2 linked regions of the Homo sapiens genome follow. The protein of the gene in region 1 interacts with the protein of each later gene in a biochemical or structural test. Each region holds a gene or a part of one and is shown in the gene's direction. Other genes may lie near its edges.

The links. The genes of interacting proteins can lie anywhere in the genome.
Region 2: the proteins of SORCS1 (region 1) and SORT1 form a complex in vitro, tested with the Homo sapiens proteins (2 studies listed by BioGRID and IntAct, with this or other methods).

What each region holds. Positions count from the first base shown.
Region 1 is NC_000010.11:107,161,707-107,169,625, reverse strand, and holds the start of SORCS1 (VPS10 domain-containing receptor SorCS1 isoform a precursor), read left to right. Parts: upstream 1-4,919; 5' UTR 4,920-5,099; coding exon 5,100-5,657; intron 5,658-7,919.
Region 2 is NC_000001.11:109,394,904-109,402,511, reverse strand, and holds the start of SORT1 (sortilin isoform 1 preproprotein), read left to right. Parts: upstream 1-4,593; 5' UTR 4,594-4,619; coding exon 4,620-4,925; intron 4,926-7,608. Other genes in the region: PSMA5 (proteasome subunit alpha type-5), read left to right, coding at 422-499.

The sequences.
Region 1 (7,919 bases):
GAGGTGTGATGAGACAGAGGGTACACAAATCCAAGATAGTTTTGTTATCTCCAACGGGTGTCCAAGGTAGAATTAACTTTCATAACATCCTTATGAGTTAGGTAGATAATCTTAGCCCTGTTTTTAAAGATAAGAGGGCTTATGTGCTCCTACTAACACCACTTAGATTGGGTGTATGAGAACGGGTACAATTACTGGATTCAGAGCTAGGTCTGTATTTGTTGATACCTGAAAGTATTTTAAGGGACAGATTTTAAAAATCCCATCATTCTGTTGGCAGGCAATGAGAATAGCCTGCATATTATTCTCCCCAGTTTTCTTTCTGTGGTTCTTCATGAAATTGATCTGAAATGCAAGACAAGACACTTTGTCTCAATGGTATCCAAGGGGAGCCAAATATTTTGAGAACTATTAAAAGACATTGTTCAAACGATGAGGCATATAAATGTGATTTAGTGCAAACTGAAGCCAAAGTAGCCATCAAAAATCAAGAGACTTAGGAAAAAGGGAAGACAAAAAACCAATGAGACAGTTAACCTGTAGCTTATGCTGTAAGATTATGTGGGGAGTGGTTATAACATTCTCTTTAACATTACTTCCCACACACAAAATAAAAGCAAATAGAAATGGGGAGTATATATATTCCCCTCAGCCTAAAAAAAGTGCACACTTGTTCCCAAAATTGCTTGCTCAGCATTACTAAAAATGTTTCAAGCCAATTAGAGTGCCTGACACATAGAAAATCATCAATAAGTGTTATCTGTTATTAGTTGGATTTGGAGTAAAACAGTATTTCATAAAATCAAGAACATACTGGGAATAAGAATGCCTACGTAGAAACCTTGTCTCTTTGCACTAATTGCTGTGTGACCCTAGTTACTTAATATCATCTGTGAAGTGGGGAGAATGATAGTACTTATGTGATATAAGCTTTGTAAAAAAAAAAAAAAAAAAAAAAAGGCATGAGCTGGTACATTTAAACTCCATAGCATAGTTTCTGGCATAGAGTATATATCTGATTTACAAAGTACTAGTTACTAAGAGTTGTGCTCCTAGGCTTGTTATACTGGTGCCACCCAGCTAACCAGCCATTATTTATTGAGCACTTAATTAACTAGGCACTGAAAGAAATGTTGAAATGAGGTTAATGTTGAAAATAAATGTTGAAATAAGGAGCACAGGGCCTTTATCCACATGTGGATTTTTTGGAAGTTATTAACAAAAAACAGGTTTAAGTAAAATAATTAAATGCTGTAATATACGCTTAGAAAGATCTGGCAAGAGATTGATACAGAAAATGTGGAATAAATTTCTTCTGTAGGCAGAGGTTCAGGAAAAGTCTCTCTAAGGTTGTATATTTAAAGTGAAGGTCTCAAAAAAGAGGAGTCAGCCATATGAAGTGGGGTTGGACGGTGGACGTTCTAGGCAGGCGGAACAGCATGTGCAAAGGTCACGAATTGGAAAAAACTGGGCACATCAGCGAAAAGGATAGCCCCTAATGGTTGGCGTATTAGGATGAGGGTAGAGAATCCTGCCAAATGTGATGGAGAAGTGAGTACTTGGTCAGCCATGGTAAGGAGTTTGGATATTATTCTGTTTGTGATGGTAAGCTGGCAGGAAGTATTAAGCAGTTACAATAAATTATATTTTTTATCCTTTTGAAAGACTACTTTTGCTGCCTTGTAGGGCAGAGTGTCCACACTTTTTTGATTGTGCACACCAATCAGTATACAATGACTAAATGTTCATATTCTTTGTCTTTCTGCCTCTGCTTCTTTCTCTATCTGCTTCTGTCTCTCTCTTTATACATATATATGCATATATATGAATATATATACATATGTTTATATTGTATATAAAACTGTATATAACATAGGTATATTAATCAATAATTAAATATTTTAGCAAGGCTAAATTTTAATCTTTCTGATTAAAACTAAATATATCACCAAATTCTATTATTTTCATCTTGCACAAAAATGGATCACCTGAGTGTGCTTGTGCCCTTGTACTTGTGTCATCTTTGGAGATGACTATTGGAGAGAAGGAACGGAACAGTGCAATTATGGAGTAGAGTGAGCAGTAAGAGGCTGTTGTGGTAGTCCAGATGAGAAATGATGATAACTTAGATGAAGTCGTGGCATATTTGTCACGTGCACAATGAAAAGACTCCTTATTGGAATTACAGATTTATGTTCTCTACTAGCCTTTGATATCAATTACTTTCCTAACAAATGACTCATTCTTATTATATTATATTAATAAAAATCTATTGGATTGCTTAGTGGGTTGTTGGATTGAAAACATCTTGAAATAGACTCCCCTCCATGATTAGCCTATTTATTGGAGTCTTCTAGATAAGGGGAATAATTTAGGAAATTACTGGTACTTTCCGCTTCTGTTTGTTGGCAAAAGTAAACGGGGAGCAGAGCCATAAGAAATAAAATGAATCCATCTATCTACATATGAACAATACGGCTTGCAGCCAATGTCATCCACACTTGTGTAACTTCTGTCTCAAATGAATAATTAAAATCAGGCATTAAAAACTTGCCTGCTCTCTATGAACTCCCAGCAAATGGACTGCAAATGCTTTCATTTTAAAGGGATCATTCTGACAGGTGTGTTTGAAAAGAGGTTGTAAATTCTGGGAAGGAAAAATCTACTCTACTTGTACGAGCATTCTTCAGGAAGCGCTTCCATTTTGAAACCAAAATAACATAAATGGTGGTAGGGCAATGATAGACTAAAGCCAGGAAATCTGAATCCACTAATGTCTTCTTTTCCATTTTGCTTCTTCCAGCCTATATTTGGATGATAATTTATTTGGGTTCTGATTCTTTAATCTGCTTTTCCTTTCTTGGAGGAATTCCCATGTACTTATCCAGACTGGAAAGGAGGTTAGCAGGGCATAGAAAGAAGTCATTAAGTAAATGATCCTGCAAAGCTCTAAAAACCTTTCTGAGGAAAGAAAAAACTACCGCTCTGGGTTTTGACAAAGAACATTTGCAATTTGAGGAGGAGAGAGGACCTCTGGCTCTCCTCTCCTCCATCTAGAGGCCATAGCCTGCCAGACAGCCTTTCTGTTTTGGAGGATTCAGGCATAAAGGAGCTTTTGCTTGTATTTCTTCTTTAACGACAAACAGGACACTCTTTTAGGTCCTTTTAGGTACTCAAGTTTAATGGCTGAGAAGCCTGCCCTCCTTGCATTTGCACTTTTTCTGCGCTGGTCGTAAGAACAAGAACTTAGGCCGATATTTTACAACACCTCTCTGGATTGGATTGATATAACAGACGTTTTCTTGGACATTAGAAAGAATTTCATTAATTGAAGAGTAATTATCACTCTGTATTACTTTGAACTTGGCCTCATCGCAAACACGGTATACAGATTTTTCAGTGAGGTTATTATTCTAGTATGAAAATGAACAAAAATGTAACTAGAAACTGGAATCGGTACTATTTTGTTGTGTCATTCATTTATTCAATCAGTAAATATTCATTAAATAATGTAATAACATGTACCTAAGAGAATATTACGTATATGAAGACTGCAAAGAAATCTGAAACCATTTCAACCCTTAGAAGCAAACTGTCTACTTTAAAAAGGATTGGATTTTGAGAAATCCTTTGCCGTTTTCAAAGCCCATTCACCTGCTATAAATCTTCATCTGAACTTACGAATAGTAGCAGGGTGCTAGGCTGGGCAGATACTATAATCATACAATTATAGAATTTTAGGAGCGGAAGGGATTTTAAAGGTCATCTAATGTGACCATTTAATTTTAAAGCTTAGGAAGCTGACAGATTGTGATTTGTCTGAGGTCCCAAAGCAAACCAGTGGCAGAGCACCATCACAGACTTGCTATTAGGGATCTCAAAGCATGTGGCAGTAGCACTGGGCCAGGCACCAAGTGACACAGAATAACTATAAGTACTGTGCCTCCTTTCCTGTATTTATTTGTTATGCAGATATGCATTAGACTCACAATAAATATTTATTGAACTAATGACTGGCAGATTTCCTCCCATGTAGGGTACTGTGCCACGTACTGAGGAAAATGGTAAACAAAAAACAGGTCACTTCCTCCAAGTTGCTCGAAATTTGATCTTCCTGTCCTCAATGAGTTTGCAGTCTCTTAGGGAAACCAAGATATATACGCTTAAAAAACGCGTAGTGGAAAGCGTTTTCTTAAATATGATTGCATGCAGGAAGATTGGGTTCAAATTCAGTGAATGCTTTAGGAGGTTAGGAGAGAAATCTAAGCGTTAAAATTGATGGGAAAAAAAATCCCCCAAACTAACACACACACACACACACACACACACACACTCACACACGAGATCATTTAATTACATCACTCTCTGCTGCTGCCTTTCCGGGATCTCCCCCCAGGCTGGGACACACAGGCTCTGCTGCGGGTAAGGTCAAGATGCCAACTCAGGAAGCATAAGAGAGGGAAGGAGCAGAAGCCCACCCATCCCTATCTCCTCAACTAGAAAAGACCAGAAAGACGGAGAAAAAAGGAAACAGCAACATAGACTCATAGAAACAATAAAGCAGGAATAGGAAGCTCCCGACACATCGACTGCTCCGGGAGCCCGGGGTCGACCGCCCCCGCGGGCAGGGTGCGCGGACTCAGCGCCGGGACCCGCGGCCGCGGGGGCGCAGAGTGGGCGGCGGGGAGAGGCGGCGGCAGCGCCTGCGAGGCCGAGGGGAGGTCGCCGGCGGCGCCTCCAGCGCCCGGAGACCCGGTGCGCAGCGCAGCTCGGCCGCGGGACGCGGCGCCCGGAGTCCCGGCAGCGCCTGCCCTCCCTCCCGCGTCGCCCGCCAGCGCCCGCGCCCGCTCCGCCAGTGACTTCAGCTCAGCTCCACCCCCGCGCGGCGGCGGCTCGCTCCGTCCGGACCCGCGCTCGGCACAAGCCCAGCCCGGGCAAGCGGCCGCCACCTGCCCGGCGCCGCCTCCGCCCGCCCCCACCGCGGCGCAACTTGGATGGAGTTGGGGTCCTGAGCGCCGGCCCCCCACAGCCGCCAGCGCAGAGCTCGTGCCGCCACCTTCGTTCTGGGACCCCTCTCTCCGCTGCTCTTCGCTCCCGCGATGGGAAAAGTTGGCGCCGGCGGCGGCTCCCAAGCCCGGCTGAGCGCGCTCCTCGCCGGCGCGGGGCTCTTGATCCTCTGCGCCCCGGGCGTCTGCGGCGGCGGCTCCTGCTGCCCCTCGCCGCACCCCAGCTCCGCTCCACGCTCGGCCTCGACCCCTAGGGGCTTTTCCCACCAGGGGCGGCCAGGCAGGGCTCCTGCCACGCCCCTGCCCCTCGTAGTGCGTCCCCTGTTCTCAGTGGCCCCCGGGGACCGAGCGCTATCCCTGGAGCGGGCTCGGGGCACTGGGGCATCCATGGCGGTTGCTGCACGCTCCGGCCGGAGGAGACGGAGCGGAGCGGATCAGGAGAAGGCAGAACGGGGAGAGGGCGCGAGTCGGAGCCCCCGGGGAGTGCTAAGAGATGGAGGGCAGCAGGAGCCTGGGACTCGGGAGCGGGACCCGGACAAAGCCACCCGCTTCCGGATGGAGGAGCTGAGACTGACCAGCACCACGTTTGCGCTGACGGGAGACTCAGCACACAACCAAGCCATGGTCCACTGGTCTGGCCACAACAGCAGCGTGAGTAGAATGGGACTGAGGGTAAAGGGGTGGAAAGATGGAAAGGGTTAAAGTCGGCTGTGTGATCTGATGGAGAATTGGGGGGAAATAGGGTTTCTGGACATGGGAGATGCTGCAAACTGGTCTCTGCCCACTTCCCCCAAGAGTTAACATCACCTACTAGGAGACCAACCTCCCCATCTCTCCCACCAACACCATCAGAGTCCTCTCCAAATGCCACAGCTTCAAACTGAGGAGTCAAATCCCTATTTCCTGTTGCCTTGGTCGCATTGGTGTGTGGAACTGAAGACCAGGTAAACAGAGGGGTTAAAGTTCTCCTAATACAGAGATGAAAGGGTTAAATTTCCAGGCAAGCTGACATCCCCTCAAGTGACTTTCCCTTTACTTGCCAGACCTATGTACTGGCTCAAAGAAGATTAAGAAGACCCATATATGTAGGCGTTTTATTTTATTTTATTTTAATTTCATGCGGAGCTCCTAACCCCTTCTTCTCCACAAGGGAGAACTGCAGTGGAGAGTATATAAGGTGTTCTTTAGTGTATCCTCTGCTTTAGGGACCAAGTGGATGCAAGTTTCAGGGCAGGAACTCTCCAGCATCTTCTAACAGCGCTAAGCGAGGGTGTTTTGAGAACTGGGGCTTTCCAGCCCGTGAATGAGCGGTTGTTCTCTGGCATGGTCAGTCCCAGGAAGATCAGATATATCCCAGTGACAACAACTCCCTGTTCTCCCCCATTGCCTGACCTCCTCTAATGAAGAGCACAAATAAAGACTTAACATTCCCTTTATGAAGGCAGGAAAGGGATTGCTCAATTCCAGGAGGCTGGATTCCAGGGGACTTAGGATGCAAGTCCATGAGCTTTGGTCCTATCAGGAAAGGTTTTAGATTTTCAGAAAAGCTTGCATGTCTGCAATCTGAGGGAGCTATTCCTGTTTAAATTGAACCTAGAAACTTCAGTGAGTTGAAATAGTAGAGAACCAGCTTTGATTGTAATAACTAAAAGTGATTTTAAAGTGTGGAAACTTCTCCAGACATAGACAAGAACATAACAACCAAGGATGGGTAAAATGGGGGAAAAAAATTTCAAGTTTTACAGCTTCAACCAGGTAATTGAGATTGTAGTGTTTGTAATATGCACAATTTACGCAGTCTGGAACCTTTCAAAACGTTTTCTGTTGTGATGTAATTCCCAGAAACCTTCCCAGAGAAGTGCCACTTTAGTGAGTTGTGCTCATTGTCAGCTTTTTAATGAGAGTTGTGAACATTTTAAAATACTAATCTGTCATCATGAATTCCTTGGGTACACAGATATAAATTGTATTAAGGCACATCATGATAGATAATATTTAGCATTGATGTATCTGTCCTGAGAGTAGTAGCAGGGTTTTCCCTACAATTCCTCCTTCATGACAGAGTCTGTGATTTTATATGGTTCTCAGGAGTGGTTTGATCAAATAAATGAAGCTGAAATTCTTTCCATTCAAGTTCTGGAGACCCTTGCCCTCATTCCTTACCTTAACCATTATATCTTTCATATCATAGCCACTAAAATTAATCCTCTAATTTGAACTCGAATCTTCTTAAACTGATTGAATAACTTTCACACTGCTTTAAGTGATTAACTCAAAGCTTCTGGCTTTAAGGGGAGATTTGAAACACATCAAACATGTTAGCTCTTGTTGTATTAAGAAGTAAAAGACTTTGGACTCAGAATGTTTCTGGCTTTTAATGTAATTCAAGCTGTAAAATATCACTCACCCATTAGACCTCTTCTTTTAGCTCATCTCTTGAAAGATCTTGGAAAGAAAGAGAAAAGTAGAATACATCTTTGGCAAATTTTTAACCTCCGTTTAGGAAATGGTGCCAAGCACTGCCAGCATTAAAAAATAATAATAAATGGTGCTTATAATTCTAGTAGGGCTTATTAGGTTCAGGGCATTGAACATGCAGGCAGGTCTGAGATAACGTAGGAAATGAGGTGATGAGTGTTAAAGTTTTGATCACTCAAATCATGTTAACTAATGAGGTGAGATTTCTGCCCCCTGAAGTCTCTTATTCCATAAAGACCTCTGCTGACCCAGTCTCTGCTCTGGTCATCACACACAAAGGTGTTTCTTCTTTTTCTTTTTTAAGTATATACATACAGATAGTGGAGAAAGAGAAATAGTCTTTATCTATGTCCTCCAAAACAAAGCCAGTCCTACGTATCTGGACCAGACTCAGAGAAAGTTTAAAATATTTTTTAAAGGGAAAGAAAGCATAAA
Region 2 (7,608 bases), on another chromosome or scaffold:
ACAGAGTGGCCAAGTAACCTCAAGTCACACACACAAGCTCAACTTTTAAGTATTTAAATATACTTCAAATATATTTCTAAAGGAGTCTTTAACAGAAAAAAGTACTGACTCCATGTACTTTGCTGCTGCTTTTGTGATCCCTGTTGAAGTGACTTCAAGAAGTGACAATGATGCCAGGCATTTGGTTAAGTATGATGTGGTGAGTTAACCTTAAAATAGAAAATTTGGTCAATAAGCATTTTTATTTTGGAGCCAGAGAGCTATTTTAGGGACCTGCTGCCTGGAAAGGATATCCTTGGGACAGCAGATCCCTTAGTTCCTAATGAATAGCTGCATCACCAACACAGCTTCTCCTGACCATGGTAGGGCCATCAGCAGGGTAACTCAGCCCAGCTTATTAACCCTTCTGTTTTCTTTCCAGCTAGCCACAGTGCAGCCTGGCCAGAATTTCCACATGTTCACAAAGGAAGAACTTGAAGAGGTTATCAAGGACATTTAAGGAATCCTGATCCTCAGAACTTCTCTGGGACAATTTCAGTTCTAATAATGTCCTTAAATTTTATTTCCAGCTCCTGTTCCTTGGAAAATCTCCATTGTATGTGCATTTTTTAAATGATGTCTGTACATAAAGGCAGTTCTGAAATAAAGAAAATTTTAAAATATTTGTTAATAGACTGTTCTCTTCTAATAGTCTTTTTTTTTTTTTTTTTTTTAAGAGATGAGGTCTCACTATATTGCCCAGGCTGGTTTCAAACTCCTGGGTTCAAGTGATCTTCCCGCCTCTGCCTCCTGAAGTGCTAGGATTATAGGCGAGAGCCACTGTGCCCAGCCATTGTAATACAGTCTTTTGTTTGAAATGCAAATGTTAGTGGGCCAAAAGGACAGTGTTATTAATATCCCTATTCTATGAAGATGTCTGTTCTAAAACTGTTTTAGTGATGCTCTATAACAGAATCAACTATATCCATTAATCCCATGGTGTTGATAAATGAACTAGTCCAGCTCTTCCCAGTGGTTAATAGATGTTAACAGCACTGTAAATCCATTTCGGCCCTATAATTTCTGGAGCAAACGTGTATTTTTGCTGCTTTTCTTATAAGGAGATGCTACTAATTGACTATCAGAAGAACATGTTTTGAGGTCCTCCTCAAAACATTGATGGGTTGGAATCAGCCATCAACAGTGTTGTACCAGTTCTTGGGTCTTGATAGACAATTTGGAAAGAGATTTCCTTGTTTACGAAGTGAAGGACTAAGAATTAAATTAATGACCTTGGCCTCACTGGCAATCAATTACAAATCTCTATATCAGTAAGAGAATTGTAAAATTCAGAAGCAGTTTACATTAGACTTTGGAATGAATGATGAACTTTCCCCATTAGAGCTGCCATCATATGATTGGTGGAGATTGTTTAAAGAATCATTCTATCTCAGCCTCAAAAATTACCACGGGAAGATGGTATCAGTATCACTACTTAACAGATGAAGAATCTAATGCTGTGTGCCCATGGACACACAAAATTAAGCTGTTGGGACTTGAACAGCTCAAATTTTCTTGTTTCAGATCACCAGCTCTTGAGTAATAGGGAAATCTGGAGATTTGAAAAGTACTTGCACTGTCCACAACATGGCTAATCCATATGTGGATGATGCAGAATTGATTTAATTCACTAACAGGGACCCCATAATTATTTGCTGGGCTCTGGGTATATTGATGTGTAGGAAGTTGTACTATATGTTAATAAATTATGACTATTTGGATAGGCTGAATTCATACTAAATCCATACTGTAGTTCAACAAAAAACAACATGTTTATATACATTTGGAAACTGCAATGATAGGAAACATTTGGAAGAAAGGGATTTTGCCCTAGAATAACACATAAGGAAAGCAGAGAATTAGAGTATATTGTTACTGAATGTTCCAGAGACTTCTAGTGATTTTAACACTTATTAAGTATAGCATGTTGATGGGGAGATTTGTTTCTCTAAAGATCACTTTGTTTTATTAAATCCTAATAGAAAATACCCTTGAAAATCCTATCTCATTTATTCCTGTAACAAATTTATTGAGCACCTACCTACTATATGCCAAGAAATGTATTAGCCATCAGGCAGAGAGCTGTTCAAATGGTAGATATGATCTGTGCTCCTGTGAAACTTCTAGTGGGGAGAGCCAAACAATAAACAATATTCCTTTTTAACTCTAGGTTAATGCAGAAATGGATAAAGCCCATGTTGCTTTTGGGAGAGGTGAGTTGTGTCTCTGAATCACATGCATTTCATAGGGGGAAAAATGCCCAAATACTAAGGAGTAGCTCTTAGCCTATGTCCGTTCGCCTCAGCTTAAGTTGTTTTCCCTCCCACTGGCTGGGCAGCATATTTGTGTTTTACCTGGTAAAACAGTAAATTTCGTACCTTCTATAATTGGCATTCTTCAAAGAGGTAGAACTTTGATTTTTTTGTAGAATATTAAAACAAGCTTTCTTAGGTTAAAGAAGTGATCTTACTACGAACAGCAATGGTTTCATGATGTGTAATTGCTTTATGTTATCTTTCTGCTATAGAATGTTTCCTGGAGAAAGGTACGGTTTTTAGTAATAAGATAAATTTACTTTAGTCCTGCAAATAAGGTGAAATCTTATGTCCAGTATCTCACAAAGGAGAACTGACAGTGCCACTTTTATATTTAATGTCAATCTCATTAGACAAAAATGAAATATAGTTCCTAGGGTTTCCAATTTAAAAAGTGAAATAATAAATATATTCACTCAAACATTTTCTCAGTGCCATATGCAAGTTACCATGTCCCAGAAGCTGATACAGTTTGAAGAAGGAAATATATAAGTACTGTAAGCCTGTGATAACTAAAAGCAACATACTAAAAAGTGAAGGTACAGATAATTGGAACAAATTTAATAGCGTTTAAAAGTGTATTTGGTAATTTCTCCAGGAGGTGGCACTGTTGAGTTGTTTTTTCTTTTCAGACAGTAAGACAATAGACCATTCATCTTTGTGTCACCCAAACAAAGAAATATTCCTTTATAACCCCCTTTCCTCCCCCCACCTAATCACATGCTACTGGAACTGACTGTCTTGTGATCTACTCCCATAGTTGGCATAGATTTAAAAATAATCTTTTTTAAATTAATCTGATAGTAGTTATGGAAAGGAACAAATTGTTCACCAATTTTCATCAGCTTTATCTTTTCAGTCCAGTAACTGAGAACTTAAAAAGACTATTCTAGTGATTTTACTATCCTGCTCAGATGGCATTCAAAAACATTTTTCACTTCTCACGTCTTGGAAAAATTTGTAAATTCGTTAAGTCTTTTTGTTTGAAAGTTAATGTGACTGGAAATATTTTAATGTAAATATCGGGTTGGGTGCATTGTATCATTTTGCTCTACAATGACTATATCCTCATTTGGGTTTATGGCCAGTTTATAATTAAAAGTAATCTTTACTTGCTTTGAGTGTAATGACTTGCATATTTTGTATCTTTCTATTTGCTACCTTTTCTACTGAACAATTTCTAGCTTTCTGAAGGGATGGAGTCAGTAAGCTTAAGGATTCAGAACTGGTTTTACCTGTGCTACGTGTTGTAGAAGTTGTGTGTGCAGCTTCTGCGGTAAAGGGAACAGCGTAGGGGTTTTATTTTATTCATTAGAGGTGGATCGGGGTGCTAATTTAGAGGACATCACATACTGGAACCAAACTTGTCCGAAGCTCTCACTGCAGAGTTAAGGCACTTTGGTAAAATAAATGTGCATCTAGGAAATGATCATGTGTACAGTAGGCATTGGATCATTCTCTTGCCCCTCTTTTACCTGCCCCTAATGCCTAAGCTACATTCGAAGTCCTGGAAAACCTGTAAGTAATTCCGCCTTTGGCCTACCTCCCCTCAGAAGAGGAAGGTGAGAGAGGCCAAACGTATGGAAAGACTATTCTTCAGGCTTGCAGGAGTCACGGATGTCCTGATGTCTGTCTCCGTAGGATGTGGCCCACATCAGTTCGCATTCACCTTCTTGCAGCAAGGCAGCTGCTTAGCAGACAATGGGCGCTCCAGTGAGCGGGGTTTATAAAAACCCGAAGCCCCGGTTCATGATGGAGCCCCCTTTTCCAGCTGAGCAAGCTCAGGGATTTCCTGGGTAGGTTTTTCCAGGCTCTGCCTCACCGAAGGAATTTTAGGAGTGTCTCTGGGGAACAGGAGGGACGTAACCCAGCCCCAACTTGAGGGCGCTAGAGGTGCGGCAAGGGGTCGCGACGCCAGGAGCCCGGGGCTCGGCGGGAAGGTATGAGAAGCTCCTACGTGAACTCCACAAGCCGGGCCCGGGAGACGCCGGGCGAGGCGGGGTTGACCTCAGCAGTCTCTGCCCCGTTCCAGCCAATCAGTCCCGCATCTTAGCATCCGAATCCAGGACCCCCGAAGCCGGAGGCGACGCGAGCCAATGAGGAGTGGGCCGGGGAAGAGGGACAGGCGGCCAGCCTATGGGGCGGAGAGGCCCGGCCGCGCGTATCCAAGGAGCGCCGCGCTCGGCTCGGGGGTGTGGCGCGCGCCGGCGGGGGTGGGCGGGCGCGCCGGGCGGCAGGTGTCGGCGTCGGCGGCATTCGGCGGCGATGGAGCGGCCCTGGGGAGCTGCGGACGGCCTCTCGCGCTGGCCCCATGGCCTCGGCCTCCTCCTCCTCCTGCAGCTGCTGCCGCCGTCGACCCTCAGCCAGGACCGGCTGGACGCGCCGCCGCCGCCCGCTGCGCCGCTGCCGCGCTGGTCTGGCCCCATCGGGGTGAGCTGGGGGCTGCGGGCGGCCGCAGCCGGGGGCGCGTTTCCCCGCGGCGGCCGTTGGCGTCGCAGCGCGCCGGGCGAGGACGAGGAGTGCGGCCGGGTCCGGGACTTCGTCGCCAAGCTGGCCAACAACACGCACCAGGTGAGCGGGCGCCGGGCCCGGGAGCCGCTCGGGTGCGAGGTGCCGCCCGCGTGCCCCTCCCGGCCCGTGCGCCCCGCGACTCCCGGAGGAGACCCCAGCCCTGCCGCGCCCGCGTCCCCCGGGCCGCAGCCCCGAAACTGCGGCGGGCGGGCGGGCGGAGTCGGGCCCGGGCGGCCGGCGGGGCTGTGTTTTGTCATAGGGGAGGCAATCTTAGACTTCCACCGCATTCTTTTTTTTTTTTTTAAGTTGTCAAAATCTCTTGAACATCGTTTTTCGTCTGTATAAATAATCAGGACCCAGTAACGCTGTTAGGCCCCAGGAAGGTGAAGGAGTAATTAACTCTTGAGCGCTTGCAGAAGTTGGGCTGCGCAGAAGCAAAGGTGTGTCCTCTCTGGGTCAGTACTTTCCGGGTGGGAGAGGCGGGAGTTCAGGAGGCCCGAAGCAGCGATCTGGTCACCGTGTTTTAATAGTTAAGGGGACTAGCTTGGAAATGAGATGGCAATATTTATGTGATCTCTTTTACTGCTTCAGATTTGACCTTCTGTCATGGTACGGAAGTCTGACTAGCATGTCTATATCCCGTGGTGACAAGATTTTCAATAGTTAAGAAACGCATTGCACATATTCTGCTTTGAGCCAGCTCTTGGTCAAAAGACTTTCAAAATTATGGGATTTCTGTCCCTGGGGACAAGCAGCTCAACCTTTGCACACTACTGGACTGACAAAACTAATTATTAAGAAAGTCCTGGTTCCTTGCTTCAGCACAACTTGGGCATCTTTCTCCTATTTCTCTAAAATTAACAATTTAATCCTTGCTAGCCACATTTGCATAATGTATTTTCAATTCTATATATTTTCTCCCTTGCCTGTTTTCCTCTTTCAAAGAAAATGAATTGCACTTGGGGGCAGAGATGGGTGGCCAAGGCTCTGTGCCAGCACTTGTCCTTCTGTAACCGTTTTTCAGCGTCAGCCAAGCCTCAGTCTCCCTTTGGACTGCCTGGTTATCTGGACCATACTTGTTACCTGTAATAGAATTCTCTGATCTGAGGACACAAGACACAAATATTCAGGAATAATTGTGCTTAGTGTATCCCGAGCAGCAGCTGTGTAAAGGTAGCCAAGCTAGTGCTGGAGGGTGAGACAGGTTGGGTAGAATGAGTACTGGGAAGTCTTCCTACTTGATGAGAAAAAAAAATCGAATAGACTTCCTTCTCACAGTGGGGGATTGAGAAAGGCTTTACAACACTAATGCTTAATTTATACTGGACCACTTCCTTCCTTGAGCTAGCTGGTCACAGCATTCTTGCTCCATATTTCAAATTCTTCTCTCGCTGGTTGACCTAACTTTAGGTCTGCTGCTACTCCTGGATTTAGATTTACTCCTGTTTTTCTTTTTCTCTTTTTTTGTGAGATAGAGTCTTACCTCAGCCTCCTGAGTAGCTGGGACTACAGGTGTGCACCACTATGCCTAGCTAATTTTTGTGTAATTACTATTTTTTTTTTGAGATAGGGTCTCACTCTGTTGCCCAGGCTGGAATGCAGTGGTGTGATCACAGCTCACTGCAGCCCTGACCTCCTGGGCTCAAGTGATCCTCTCACCTCAGCCTCCCAAGTAGCCGGGACTACTGGTACATGCACCCAGCTAATTGTTCTTTTCTTTCTTTCTTTCTTTTTTTAAGAAACAGGGTTTTGCCATGTTCCCCAGGCTGGTCTTGAACTCCTGGGCTCAAGTGCTCCACCCACCTTAGCCTGCCACAGTGCTGAGATTAGAGGCGTGAGCCACTATGCCCTGCCTGGATTTATTCCTTGAGTCAGAGTCTTCCTGGTTAGTTTGAATTGATGTGTCATTTGTAATATATTGATTCCAAAGAAAGAGGTTGAAAAAACTGGCTCAGGGGTTCTAAGGCCAAATCTGTGGAAGAGTAGACCTAAAACCACTCATTCTTTGAAGTCCACATGTAAAGAAATTTTCTTCTATTTCTTTCATTTAGCTGTTTGCAATAATTTTTTTTTAGTTTTTCTCTCCCAGTCTTTTTTTCAGTGACCTTATTTAAAATAGCTATTTTGGCTGGGCACGGTGGCTCATGCCTGTAATCTTATCAATGTGGGAGGCCAAGGCAGGTGGATCACTTGAGGTCAGAAGTTCAAGACTAGCCTGGCCAACATGGTGAAACCCTGTCTCTACTAAAAATACAAAAGTTAGCCAGACGCGGTGGCATGCGCCTGTAATTCCAGTTATTCTGGAGGCTGAGGCATGACGATCACTTGAACCCAGGAGGCAGAGGTTGCAGCGAGCCGAGATCGCACCGTTGTACTCCAGCCTGGGTGACAGAGTGAGACTCTATCTCAAAAAAAAAAAAAAAAAAAAAAAAAAAAAAGTTTTTGCGTTTGTTAGTCATCCGTGGTCTCTTCTTCAGAGATCTCATCCTTTCTGTATCTGGTTAAAAAAAAAAAAAGTGGAGCCTTTGTTTAATATCATTTACCTTAAAAATGGTTAAGTAGTACTTCTTAACCAAGAATTGTTATGTAGTAGCCTGTTCTTCTGTTTATTTATTTGGTTTTAGAAGTCATAAAAAATCCTGAACTGTATTGAAGAGATCTAGTATTTTTGGACCGTTTATAAAACAGTGTGAAATAAAAGCATCAGCATGACAGAACAACTTTTTATCAGAGATATTGTACT